2 linked regions of the Homo sapiens genome follow. The protein of the gene in region 2 interacts with the protein of the main gene of each other region in a pairwise test. Each region holds a gene or a part of one and is shown on either strand. Other genes may lie near its edges.

Evidence for each region. Proteins that work in one complex are often made in the same cells at the same time.
Region 1: the proteins of ITGB2 (region 2) and NOTCH2NLA interact in a two-hybrid assay, tested with the Homo sapiens proteins (4 studies listed by BioGRID and IntAct).

What each region holds. Positions count from the first base shown.
Region 1 is NC_000001.11:146,218,988-146,226,021, reverse strand, and holds part of NOTCH2NLA (notch homolog 2 N-terminal-like protein A), read left to right. Parts: intron 1-7,034.
Region 2 is NC_000021.9:44,917,890-44,924,783, forward strand, and holds the start of ITGB2 (integrin beta-2 isoform 1 precursor), read right to left. Parts: upstream 3,011-6,894; 5' UTR 2,932-3,010; intron 1-2,931.

The DNA of each region.
Region 1 (7,034 bases), on a different chromosome or scaffold from region 2:
TTTGGTTCACCTGGATTGTAGTTGCTGACTTCAGGACCTTTAGAGAATGTTTAAATTCAGTGGGATATGCTTGGATGGTTCAGAGCAGCCTTACAATACATTTTAAAAATATCACACCCACAGAAATTCTATTTTGCCCACAAAATTTGCATTGATCTAGTTCCCACTCTGTGTTGCCATTCCTAGTGATCCTCCTCCCTACCTCTCCCATTATGGTAGAAAAAAACTCTGTGTCCTGGCTACATCAAAATCTGTTGGGGTGGATCTTGGACTCAGCACCCAGGGATTCTGATAAGGTAAGTTTGAGAATCCATATTTTTTCAAGGTTTACAGGTGATTCTGACAAGTAACTTGGTTGCAACCCACTGATTAAGTACATTTTTTTTTTACCTTCAGGTGTGTGTATGAGGTCTTTCTAAATTTAAGAAATTTCCATAACAAATGTAACCTTAGTCATTCCAGTGTTTAACACTTCTGACTCAAGAATTTTAAAATTGCTAACGTAAGAGATATAGAATATAATGTCATTTCTTCTGTTTATCTGGGTGCAGTATGTCTGCATTGACCCTTTAGAAGGGCTTCATATATTTAGATGATATAATAAATTCTCTACCTCTCCTTTTCCCTTTTCTTCTGTTATCTCTTTTTCCTTAAATGTCATTCATACATGTTGTTTTTTGACCCTTTATCTATATACGTCTGCAATGATTTTAGAGTAAAAAACTGCAAGGCGTGATTTGAATAAGGATATAAGAAATTTTACATCATTTTCTTTATATTGTGTTCACAGTCCATAGTTACATGCTTCCTTTCTTGATGTCTCAGTTCGAATGCCTAAATTTGAACTATTAATTTTCCTTCCACCCTTTCCTGATTTTCCTGTTTTTGTTTCCCCCCCTTTCTCTGCAAATGACTTGAAACCAAAAGGTCTTCTTTTCTTTCTTTGTCAGTCTACCATATGTGTAGTATTTTGGACAGATCACTGAACTAGGAGCCAGAAGACCAGAATTCTTCTCCAGGTCTGTTATTAATTGGTTTGGTGACCTTGTAGGAGAGCCACTGTTTTGGTCCTCCATTTTCTGATGTTCATTGTTCATGGTCACAGAGCCAATTAGAGTTGAGACTAGAATTCCTTTCTTCTGGTGTCCAGTGCCTCATTCACTGTCCACATTGCTTCCATCTCGTGTACAAATGCGCTTATGTGCACAAAAACTCTTATAACATCCTCAAGTGCTTATTGTTAATGCGTACATGAGGAAGGAATCGTGTATTTTCATTTATGTGTTTATTCTAATGCCCATACCCTACCCCTGTACCTGGCATGATGCCTTGGTATCTAATAGGCACACAATAAATACTTGTTCAGTCGAACAATTATTTTTAGCCACTTTCTTATTTTGGACAACTGTGGTACTCCTAGACATTTTAAAAATAGTATTTGCAGGAGTCATGCTTACCTTACATTTGGGGAAAAACCAAATTTTTCCCTTCCCCAGATGTTTCATTTAAACTTGTAATTTTGAATTTCTTTGTGTGTGGGGTTTCTTTCTTTCTTTTTCTGATCACTTCTGCAATTTATAAAGGTCACTTTGACTTTGGAATCTCACTTCAAAGGCACTGCCATCCACCCCCTGCCTCTCATTCAAGTTTGCTTCCACTGCTTCCTGTATTACTGTATTACTAGGCCAGCAATTTCTGTTATTTTGTCCAGAATAGCCACACCTTATTGTAATTTCATCATTTTGGGGACTAGTCATTTTTGGAATACTATTTTTAAAATTAGAGTTAACTAAGTTTATATTTATTTTGATAATTTTTTTTGAGATTTTTTTCATTGAGTTGGATATTGCAAACTTGTACTGGATTGAGAGAATATGTACATTTAGTAAAGTATATTTGCTTTTTTTTTTTTGAACCAAGAGAGTCCCCTGAACACCCTACTGACAAAAACTAAAGGTGAAATATGATGAATAAATATTTGAGAGAATCACATGGTGTTGAGTTGTCTCTGCCACATGATTTTGATCCTTGAGGGCCAGGTCTGTGCTACACACATTTCTTCTCTGTACTACAGAACTTGTCTGGCATGTGCCCCAAATTCAGAGTCAACTGAGCGGCAGGTCTTAGTCACAGCATCTGTGACTCCTGCTTTCCCACCTTTAGAACATTCTATAGGAGAGGCTGATGGTGAGTTGGAGTGTGTTTCTATGTTCTTTTTTCCTTTGAAGAGATAGGATCAGTTGAAAGCTGACCCCACCCACAGACTTTTTTTGCTATCTCTTTTAATTAATTAAGGAGTGGCTGAAATTTTCCTCTTTGTTGACTTATGCATTGGCGGGAACTTTAAAATTCATCTAGTCTTTCTGTCCATCCCATGCTGGATCTGATGTTTACAACATTCTAGTCAAGAGGTACCATATTTTCTCTCTTCTTGAACATCTCTTGTGGTAGACAGCTCTCCACAGCAGTTTATTCCATCTTTGGCCAGCTCTAATTCTTAGAAAGATCTTCTTATATTCAGCTGTAATCCATCTCCTCATGACTTGTCCTCATTGACATCTACTCAGAAATTTGTCTCAGAGTCCTGAGACCTGTGCAGGTGATAGGGACCCAAAGAGATGCTTGTCTGTAGACTTTACTGAGCTGACACCCAGCTCTCCATAAAAGGAGTCAAACCCAGTGAGGAGCATGTCTGGGGTGATTGCTCAGGTAAAGCATCTTAGCCCTACTTGTTTCATACCTCCCTGCACAGGTGGGCACTGGTGGGAGAATAACATTTATCAAGCAGTGTTTCCCTAACCTCTCTTATGATAAGAATAGCTCAGGTGTTCTCATGGAGATTCTGATTCAGTGCATCTGGAATGTCATCTGGGAATTTGTGTGTTCAAGAAATAGCCAGGTGATTCTTACATTAGGAAAGTTTTAGAATCACTGCAGAGTGAATCTGGGAAATCAAAGTGTTTGTTTTTGTTTGTTTGTTTTTTGAGAGTATTAGAGACAGGTTGCTTTGGCTAGATCCTGTGGTCATTTTTCCCCCTTGGAAATGCCTCCTACTTGCTGGCCTCACTTAGTACAGAGAAGAAAGCTGCTATGGTATAAGGTTAGTAAAGTTGTTTGTTTTGTCTTAAAAGAAATTTGCGAAATCCAGCATTTTCGGACTTCTGTTTGTGTTGTATGACTTTGTTGTAAGCCTCCTTATTCCTCCATTAGAATGTTACCTGAGATGTTAGAATGCATAGGAGTTCCACAGCCTTTTTGGTGTCCACTAAAGAATTCTGTCCTCAGCCGTTGCAAATGGTGCTTCCTTTGAGGATTTCTGCTTCATTAGCTCATGAACACATATTTGGTGTCGGCAGTTTCCCTCAGATGTGTTAGTGTGGAGAGATATAAAGGTCACTCATTTCTGGTGGTCCTGCTTTTGGGGTTTCTGGGCTGCTGCAGCAAATGAAATAAGGAAAGGAAAATAAAGGAGGAATCTAGGGCTTCTTGAGCAGAACAAAACAATCTGCAAGAAGGGGCACAGGATTGCTCCTCTCACAAAGACACTTGATAATACTGTCCTTGATAGGAAGAAGGAAGTGGCTTCAGATCTGAAAGGATATGCTCATAGGCTTGAGACGGGACAAACTGCATCACTGGTAGTGGTAGGAGGTTTGCCGTAGATCTGTTTTTTCTCCTGTCTCTCTTTTTTGAGGAGAATATTATCTGTATGGCAGAACATACATTGTGGTCTTAAAAAGGAGAGTAAAGCCAAGAAAGGGGGATGATAAAGCCATAGCTTGGAATAAGAAAAGCAAAGGAATTATTGTATTAATTTGTGTATGTAAATACATAGGTTTCCATGTAATTCACTGGTAGGATCACTAGCCCTTGGCACTAACATTTGCTATCTTTGTAGCTCTGCTGTCTTAGTGGTGTATTGGGGGAGCATTGTGGTGTGTTGTCACACTTAATTTGTGTGCTTCCCTTGGCATCATGTGGTAGCAAGTACAGGGTATTCTACTCTTCTAGATGTGTGGGAATCATTGACCAAGTAGAAAATATGGTCCTGCTCCCAAGGAGCTGACATCATCATGGAGACAAGACAGATAAGCACACAATTAGGAATATGAAATACAGTTATTTTATCATTTATCTATGCTCTCTGAAAGCAGTTTCCTGCAGTCAGGGTGACTCAGAGCTATAGGGTCTTGGGAGTAAACTTCAGGTCTTAATACCACCAGGGAAAGGCGACCTCCAGCTCACCCTTGCTGGGCTTGTCTGCTGTCGTGAGCTGTCTGCCATTTTCCTCTTTCTGTGTTGTAATTTAGAAGTATTAGAACTTGGCTTGGGGAAAAGACAAAAACCCCTTTGTCTGGTGAGGGTGTAAATATAAATTTGGCACATGTTGTGGTGTCTATTATGTCTGTTAGTGGGTTTGCGGCAAGAGAGAGTGCTGTGTTCTTAGTCCCGAATGCCAAGCCTGAACTAGGACAAGTTATGGTGGAAATATCTTCCTTGGAAGATGCAGTTCTCAGTGGCAGTGGCTGAAGGAACTTCTCGTCACAGCCAGGCAGTGACTGAAGTGTGGTGTGGACACACCCAGAGTTGCTGCCTCAGGTGGCATTGATTAATCATACTAATATCTCCCTCACCCTTTTGTACTTGTCTTGGCAAAACCCTGTTCTACTAGCTCCCCAATAGTTTGGCCTTTACTAGGTATGATTGAACAAGCTCTTGGGGGTTCACCTTAGTGTCCCTTGCCCCTCTCGCATTTCCAGCCAGCTACGTCGCTCCAGCCATGGTACCCCGGGTCCTCTGGCCAGGCAGTGAGGGGCTGGGTTTTTCTTCCCATTGGACTGAAGCACCTTTCCCTGGAGGCTTGCCTAGGGCAGTTTCTGGTCTCTGAGTCAGTTCCTTCTGCAGGATACTGGCAGCTGGCAGAACTCTGGGTTATTTGAATACATCAGCCAAACATCTTGCCAAGATGGACTCATTGTTGCATAACGACAGGTTGGATCTATGGGTGTTGCAGAACCTGTTTCTGGGTTAAGAGTAACTCTCTCACCTTTATTATATATGTTTATTCATATGATGAATGTATGTGTGTATTTTGTGAAGTAAGGAAAACATGATGATAATATTGTGGTTGGAGTTAGATACCTTATCCTAAATATGTTGTCTTTTTAACAAATAGCATTCCTTTAAAATACAGTTGTGCTTGATGAATAAGGTGTTGTACAAGAAGCTGTGGTTACATTCTAAAATAAACTGCCTTGTTCTGAGGCAGGCACGTTTTAAAATTGTTGTTTGCTTCTTTTTCATCTCTTTTTATTTTCATCTTTTTTTGTGTGAGAAGATTCTGGAAGTTTTTAAGCCTCAAATATTTTCAATAATCTATTTTAACGGGTACCTAGCAGGGAGAGGTTGTTCTATTGGTATACCTAACCAACATTCAAATAAGAATAATTGAATACTGTTTACTCACTAATCTATTCTGTTGAGTTTCTAAGTATGAATAATCACAAAACTAGATAGTGCTGATATATTAACTTCTCTAAATGGTAAATGTGGTAAGTAGCAAAGACATTTTTGTTTAATTCTCTCCTTACACATGCTTTGGTTCAGACGCTGTCAAGACACATTGAAGTTTGAGGACATGTGTATTTCGATTATTTTATTATATTTTTATTTGCTGTGAATATGGGTTTATTTATTTGCTAGATCTTCTTTAGTTAGAAACATTAAGGGCATTTACTTTATTACAACATTTAAAGTGCATTCTAATCTTCATGAGGAATTTTAGGTAAAAGACCGTATCCTGAGATTCATGCAAGTCTTTGGCATTATGTTACTATTTAAAGTAAGTAATATGTAGTGGCTTCTCTGACATATTCTTTCTAAGAGAGTTAAGGAAAATAGTTGTAACTAAAAGCAAACATTGAAACAGTTTAAGGTAGGTTTACGTAGCAACAGAATTATTCGTTATGTTTACAGATAATTAACTCATATTTATACTTTGCTGATTTTCTCTGGCACCTTTACAAGATTTTTTTATTTTTGTAATATAAAAAGTAATTATGTTTGAAAAAGTAGTTAAGGATGTTTGAAGAATCTAGAAAAGCATAAATAAAATGTCCACAATCATGCTGCCATTAATTTTTTGGTATACGTCTTTGGTTTTTTTACCCTTAGATTTAGAAAAGCTGTTGATTTATTTATATATATATATATATTTTTTTTTTTTAGTTTATGAACAGATCTACATATATATATATGCACACACACATAATATACTATTGTCAACACTAGGTTTTATTTTTAAAAATCTTTACCATTTGATAAGTGGTAAATATTACTTAATCTTAATATGCCTCTCTCATTACAGTGATATTGAATGTTTTTTCATATCATCAGTGGCGTTTGTATTGCCTTTTTTCCTACTTCTTTTGTAAATTGTGTCTTTTACTCATTTAATTATTTTCTTACTGGTTTGAAAAAGCTCTTTAAATATTAAGGGTGTTAGTCTTTTGTCTTAAATATGTCACAATATGTATGGAAATAATTAGCAGTATATAACATAACATCAAATTGCTACCAATGTTGATATAAAAATTGTTCATTTCATAGGTTAATTTTTTTTAATCCTTTGGTTTCTAATGATATTGGTTAATTCATTTGTTAACTGCTATTTTCTGTAGCTACTTGAAAGTTCTTATCTGACTGTATCGTAAATCAGCATGCTTTCAGCTGTATATGTCTAGGAAATTGACATTTACTTTAATACTTAATAAAAAAATATGTTGGAGAAAAGCAGTGTATTCTGGAGTCAAATACATGATTTTGGGTGGGTGACGTAATCGGCTACTGTCCTCCTTTTCTAGATAGCCAAGATTTTTGAAGCATTTAACATCCCTGAAAGGCAGGACTAATGCTATGTCTACCATGCACTGCTAATTCTGACACTTTGACCTAATGGATAAATGCCAGTACAGTGGGTCTAGCCAGTTAGCTTGGTCAGAGAACAAGATGACTAAGATTCTCTCCCCCTTTCC
Region 2 (6,894 bases):
AGCCCGGGGTGGGCAGGGGCCTCAGCTCAGGACAGCACCAGGGCCCTCTGTGCTTGCTCAGGGCCTGGGCTCCACACACATGGGCTCGGAATCGACAAATGCAACCACCTAATCAATGCCCCGTGTCAGTGCCAGTTTGTGCCAAGCAGAATGGGAGGGATAATTGCTGGCACCAGGTCCGGCTTGGGGTGGGTATCACCCACAGCTCCATAATTGCTAGGCGCCCACTGCAGAGCCCCTTGAGTTGGGGCTTCCCAGCGACCTGGCCTGTACCTGCTGGGCAAATGCCTGTGTCACTGACCCCTGTGGCAGCTGGCATTCTCCTCCGGGAACGGGAGCCAGCCTCCGGTGACATGGCCTCAGGCAGGACCACGGTTCTCTGACACAGGACACGAGTGCAGCAAGGGGGGCCCACACAGGACCTGTTCCATGGAATCGCCACAGGCGTCACGCTGCCCCATCCACAGAGGCAAATGTCCCACAGCCCTGGTACCTGGTGGGGCCCGGCCTGGGCCAGAGTGGACAGACCTGGGCCTGGCAGGAGCCCTGGGGAAGTGAGTTCAAGTTACACGGTTGACTATAGAGACAGCTGGAGTGCGCACAATTGGCCAGACCACCCCTCCTGTTTCACAGATGGGGAAACTGAGTCACGGGGGACCAAATAGCCTGCTCACCCCATGCCCCTTCCAGACAGGGTGCAGATAGGGCCCCTCCCATCTCCTGGATGGCCGCGGCCCCTGTGCAGAACTTCCTTCATGGGCACCTCGCTGTCTGGGGGCCTCTTCCCCAGGGAGTCTCCTGGTGGTGGCCGTGTTGCCTCAGGCTCACTGTGCACTAGGCAGGTCACGTCGATGCCGCCTGAGGGGCAGGGGTTACCACCCTGTGGTTCAGGTGAGAAGCTCCAGGCTCAGGAGTGTCCAGCTGCCTGGGCAGTGTTTGGATCTCATGCCAGCCCCTGCCAGGAGGCCCTGCTTCTCCAGCCCAGCCCACGCCCACCAGGAAATGCCCCTATTTACTCCCTTGAGGCAAAGGCCCTTGGGTGGCTAAGCGTCCCCTCTCCCAGCACTCGGAGCTGAGCGTCCCCTCTCCCAGCACTCGGAGCTGAGCATTCCCCTCTCCCAGCACTCGGAGGCACCTGCAGTTGCTCAGCTGTTCATTGAGTGCTGGGAGTGGAAACTCATACGCTGAGCGGCAGTGACGCTGCGGAGCTGACAAACCCCACAGCCCGCCCGGTCACCTGCTTCACCGAGGGCCACAGCCCCCCCGGGGTCAGGTGGCCACAGGGGTCCTGGCCATGTGGGACATCTGTTCTGTGGCCCTGCTCAGGATGGCACCCGGCGGGGACTGGCCCTGGGGCCGAGGCATGGGCTCAGCCGCCGCCCTGCAGGGACGTAGCCAGGGACCTCTTCCCAGCAGAGGGACTCCCCCACTCATCCCCAGAATACTGAGGGGCACGCTGGGTGCCAGGCTGGCAGGGACCCTGGGGATTCTGCTGTGAGCTGGATGGGGAAGGAGTTCCTTCCTAAAATGTGGAGTCTGGAGGCCACTCTTGGTAAAGTGCTGGCCCCCGGGGATTCTGCAGTGAGCTGGGCATGGATTCTGCAGTGAGCTGGGCTTCACTCATGGTGAAACGCTGGGGTGACGGCAGACAGCCCAGAGCTTCTAGCAGCTCATTTCTGTGAAGCCTCCAGAATCCGGCCTCAGCCCCCAAACCCGCAGGCGTTGCGCCACCGTCACGGGGAAGGCGAGTGACAGCGAGTGTCCCCTATGCCCCCACAGCTCGCTCCCAGGCTGAGCTCTCCGGCCATCCCCCCCCTTCCCCATTGCAGCCATGCCACCCCTCCTTCTCCCCACCCAGGAACTGACAGAGGAGAGGGGCCCCGGATGGACAGGGACAGCAGGGCAGAATCCCAGCTCCCAGATCCAGGGGAGGGGGGATTGGGTGTGGGGACGGTGGTGCAAGGGGTGGTGCCAGGGGTGGAGGATGCATGGGGAGGGCTGGCCCCAAGAGTGCAGTGTTGGGGGAAGGGGGCCAGGTGGGCCTGGGACCCAGGGGCGTGGCTTCAATCCCCCTCCCACCAGGACCTTGGGAATGGCCTCCAGGAGCCTGTTGTGGGGAGGCCAGGGTCACCAGCTGAACCAACTCGACCAGAATCGCACAGCGGTGCCCGCTCCCCTACAGCAAGACGTCACCCAGGGGTCCCCACGGAGGAGGCAGGGAAGCTCGAGGGTCCCAGAGGAGCATGGAGCATGTGCCACACCACACCACACTACATTACACATGTGCACCATACATGTACATACAACAGACTCCCCACATCACATGCGCACACTCGCACACCATACATGCACACACACACACCACACTACGCTATGCCACACACGTGCACCATACATGCACACCATGCCACACTACACACACGACACTACACACCACGAACCACACCACACCATATCACACACCACACACTGCGAGTCGATCTGGAGATGGAATCGCTGTAGCCAGGCGGGGCAGCATGCAGACAGGAGGGCCTAACACAGGCAGGCGCAGCAGGTTCACAGAGGAGGCCCCGGGAACCTGCCTCCTGCCCAGCCCGGAGCACCAGGACCCCCCAGCCGTCCCCCTAGGGGCTTGTGGGCCCAGCCTCTTCCTGGCCTTGCCGGCCTCACAGCCCCTTGTCCTCCCATGCCGGCCCCATCCTCAGCCGCAAGCGCTCCCAGCACACCATGTGGCTCTGCTCTTGGTGGCAGGCACTTCCCCTTGCCGGGTCTCAAAGGGGACCCTGGAGCAGACGGTCTGGAGACCCCTTCCTGCCAGACACCCCTGGGCCGGGGCTATAAGCAGGGCCACCAGGGTCACTCCAGGCTGGGGCAGGAGAGTGCTTCCCTCCAAAAATCACCGTGGACATAGCGGGGCCTCTGCACACTCACCCTCGGTGTGCTGGAGTCCTCGGCGGTGCTCCTGGCTGGGCGTGGGGGCTTTGCTACCAGTCTGCCCTGGGTCACGTCTAGAAACCTCAGCTGGAGGCGCGGGTCGTAAAGTCCTGACACTTCCTGTTCCTCTCAGCTCCTCCTTGGAGGAAGTGGTGGGTTGCACCACCGTGGCCCTTCACCCCTGCCCCTCTCCGCTCTACAGCAGCTCTGATGTCAGAGAGCGGCCCCTTGAGACAGGTGGGACATGTCATTTCTCACATGAGGTCCCGGCGAGAAGGACCTGCTTCCATCAGATTCACACTTGGGAGAGGGGCCCGGCCTCCAGGAGCGCCAGGCAGAAAGGGCACCCATTAGGAAGAAGAACACAGAGGCCATGGGAGTGAAAAGTTTGATGCTGGAAAGCAACAGTAGCACATTCTGCTACAGAGCGGAATGAAAAACCCTGGGGAGCAAATTCCTGAGCCAGAGAATGGAGCGGAGGAACCAGCCAAGGAGGATAAAGAGGTGGGAACAGGCAAGAAAACCTGGGTGCGTGCACGCATTGACATCCACCTGCATGTGAGGGCGGGAGGGGACAGAACAGGGACAGCGAGGAGGAGACACTCAGGTCACAGGAGGAAGGCTGCGGATCTGGGCGGGGACGTGGATTGCGAGGCCACTGAACACCCCAGGGATGGATGGATGAGGTCCTGTTAACTAGGGACATTAGGAGGATACCACAGAACACGAAAGGGAAAATACTACAGGCTCAGAGAGAGAGAGAAGGGAGAGGAGGAGGAGGAGGAAGAGGAGGGAAAGAGATTATACCTAGAAAAAAAACCCAAATCAGACATCTTCAGAGCAAGGACTCAGACACATTACTACCCTAAACTCTGTTTTATTTATTTATTTATTTTTATGTTTTCAGTTTTTTTTGAGACAGAGTTTTGCTTTTGTCACCCAGGCTGGAGTGCAGTGGCGTGATCTCAGCTCACTGCAACCTCTGCCTCCCGGGTTCAAGCAATTCTCCTGCCTCAGCCTCCCAAGTAGCTGGGATTACAGGCACATGTACCACCACGCCTGGGTAATTTTTGTATTCTTAGTAGAGACAGGGTTTCACTATGTTGACCAGGCTGGTCTTGAACTCCTGGCTTCAAGTGATCCATCCACCTCTGCCTTCCAAAGTGCTGGGATTACTGGCGTGAGCCATGGCTCCCGGCTCCTAAACTCTGTTTTAAAGATGTCTTGCAGAAATAGACATGAAGAAATCCATGAGAAATACAAGAGCAGATGATACAAAGTTGGGCAAAGAAATAAGTAAAAATTATGATGTCATAACCTGTTGATTTAAAAAATAGTGGTAAGAATATTAACGCTGTGAAACAAAACGCCTAGAGGACTGGGTTGGGAGGGGCCAGGGAGCACATTGCCGTTCCATCCTATCTGGGGAGGAATATAGATGCTTGTCAGTGGGCATTTTGATAGAAAATATCTAAGTATATATGCTAACAATTCAAGAGTCTCCTTAAGAATAAAAATAGCATGTATATACCTGAAAAAAAATATGACAAATCTTTATTTTGGGCATGGTGGCTCAAACTTGTAATCCCAGCACTTTGGGAGGCCGAGGTGGGAGGATCACTTGAGCCCAGGAGTTCGAGACCAGCCTAGGCAACATTTGGAGACCCAGACCCTCATCTCTACAAAAAAATTTTCTAAGAATTCGCCAGGCATGGTAGCACGCGATATGGTCCAGGCTACTTGGGAGGCTGAGGTGGGAGAATTGCTTGAGCCCAAGAGGTTGAGGCTACGGTGAACCATGCTTACACCACTGCACTCCAGTCTGGGTAACTGAGAAAAAAAAAAAAAAAAAAAGGCAAATCCTTTAAAAGAAAAAAGTAAGGGAAAATAGAACAAACAAGAAAGGTAAATAAAAACCAAACAATAAAACATTGGGAATAATTTCAAACCCATCAGGAATCACAGCACCTGTGAATGGGTTACATTTTCTTGTTTTAAATCAACAAGGTCTTGCGTTGGGTTTTAGAAATAAAGAGACAAAACAAGTTCCAATGAAATGTTCTCTGTCAAGGGTATCTTCTCATTACAGACTTAGCCTAGAAAATAATGAAGAAGGACAGAAAGAGAATACCATTCTACTACACCCGCTGATGACTTAAAGTAAGCAATGACCCTCGCTGCGAACGTCACGGACGCAGCAGACGTTATGCACACACCTTTAATGAATTAGTCTTGATGAAATAACAATAGAAATCAAGAAAAATAGAAAGAACAAATGTTACTATTGAGCCTGAATCAGGTCGAACTTTTTAGATCTACAAAGAAGCATCAGGAGGGTGTGTTAGATGACATCGTAGGGATGCAATTAGCAAAATCCAGGCTGAAGAAACCCTCACAAGGCAAACAGCACAGTACAAGAGGAGAGACGAAGGGAGAGAGACCCTTTAGATTAAGAGATTTAATCTCTTAATAGAACCAATTGCAATGCATGGACCATATTTTAAAATCATTGTTAATTGTTTTAAGTGTGACAATGGTTTGTGGTTATGTTAAAAAGTCCCCATCTTTTAGAGTTACATGTTGAAATATTTGCAGATGGTGCAGTATAATGTTTCAGATTTATTTCCCAATAAAGAGGGGTGGGTTGGGTTGGGGGAGAGTCGGGAGAGGTGTTGATACAACAAGATCACCTGTGAGTTGATTATTTTTGAAGCCACTGTTGGGGACATGGGGCTTCACTAATCTATTCTCTCTACTTCTGTAGATGTGTGAAATTTTTTGTAGTAAGATTAAAAAAACATTTCAAGGAAGTGTAAAGTTATTATTTCGCGGGTATAAAGTTCCCGTTTTGCAAGATGAAATGGTTTTGGAGAAGTTGGTGGTGATGGTTGCACAGTACTAAGTGTCCTTAATGCCACGGAAATGCATAACTTCAAATGGTTAAAATGGTGAATTTATGTTATGTATATTTTATCACAATTAAAAAGTAAAAAGTGTAAGAAAGGCTCTCTATCAGATAAACTGTTAAAAGAGAACACTGAAGGCTGAAAATAAAGAAACGGAAAATACACGTATGTGCTAGAAAATACTAACGAAGATATCGTGTAACATCAAAAAGATAGAAATCAAAGCAAAATGCATCAAATGGACAAAGGAAGATGTAGCCAATGAGAGTCAGAATCCACAGACAGTTCAGCAGCCATAATCCTTTGTGTGCCGAACTTCAAAATATATAAAACAAAGACTGACAAATATATAAGCAAACTGACACAGCCCCAAACAGCAAATATCTCTAACAGATCTCTCTCAGAAATAAACACATCAGGCCAGTCGCGGTGGCTCACACCTGCAATCCCAGCACTTTGGGAGGCTGATGTGAGCGGATCACCTGAGGTTAGGAGTTCAAGACCAGCCTGGCCAACATGGCAAAACCCTGTCTCTACTAAAAATACAAAAATTAGCTGGGCATGGTGGCGCATGCCTGTAATCCCAGCTACTTGGGAGGCTGAGGCAGGAGAATCACTCAAACCTAGGAGGCAGAGGTTGCAGTGAGCCGAGATTGTGCCACTGCATTCCAGCCTGGGTGATGAGAAGGAAACTCTTACTCAAAAACAAAAACAACAACAAACAAACAAGAAAAAATCAAATAGAAATGCAAATTTGGCAGGTAGAGAATTTGAGGAACGTAACCATTCGTCTCCAACTTAAACACAATTATGTTACAAAGTGGGACAATGATAAACACATAATTACTAGACCACAAGGGAAATAACCACATATTCTAAAGCACAAAGACCATAAGGAGGCCAAATTCACGGACACAATTGAATGAAATTAGATGCTGTCCAAAGGATGGCATGAAAGAAAAAAAACAGCACTCCTGAAAAGTGGACCCAAATATAGCCTAGATCACATACATCCATGGTGCCACACTCACGCTACGGGGTAATGAATAAGAGC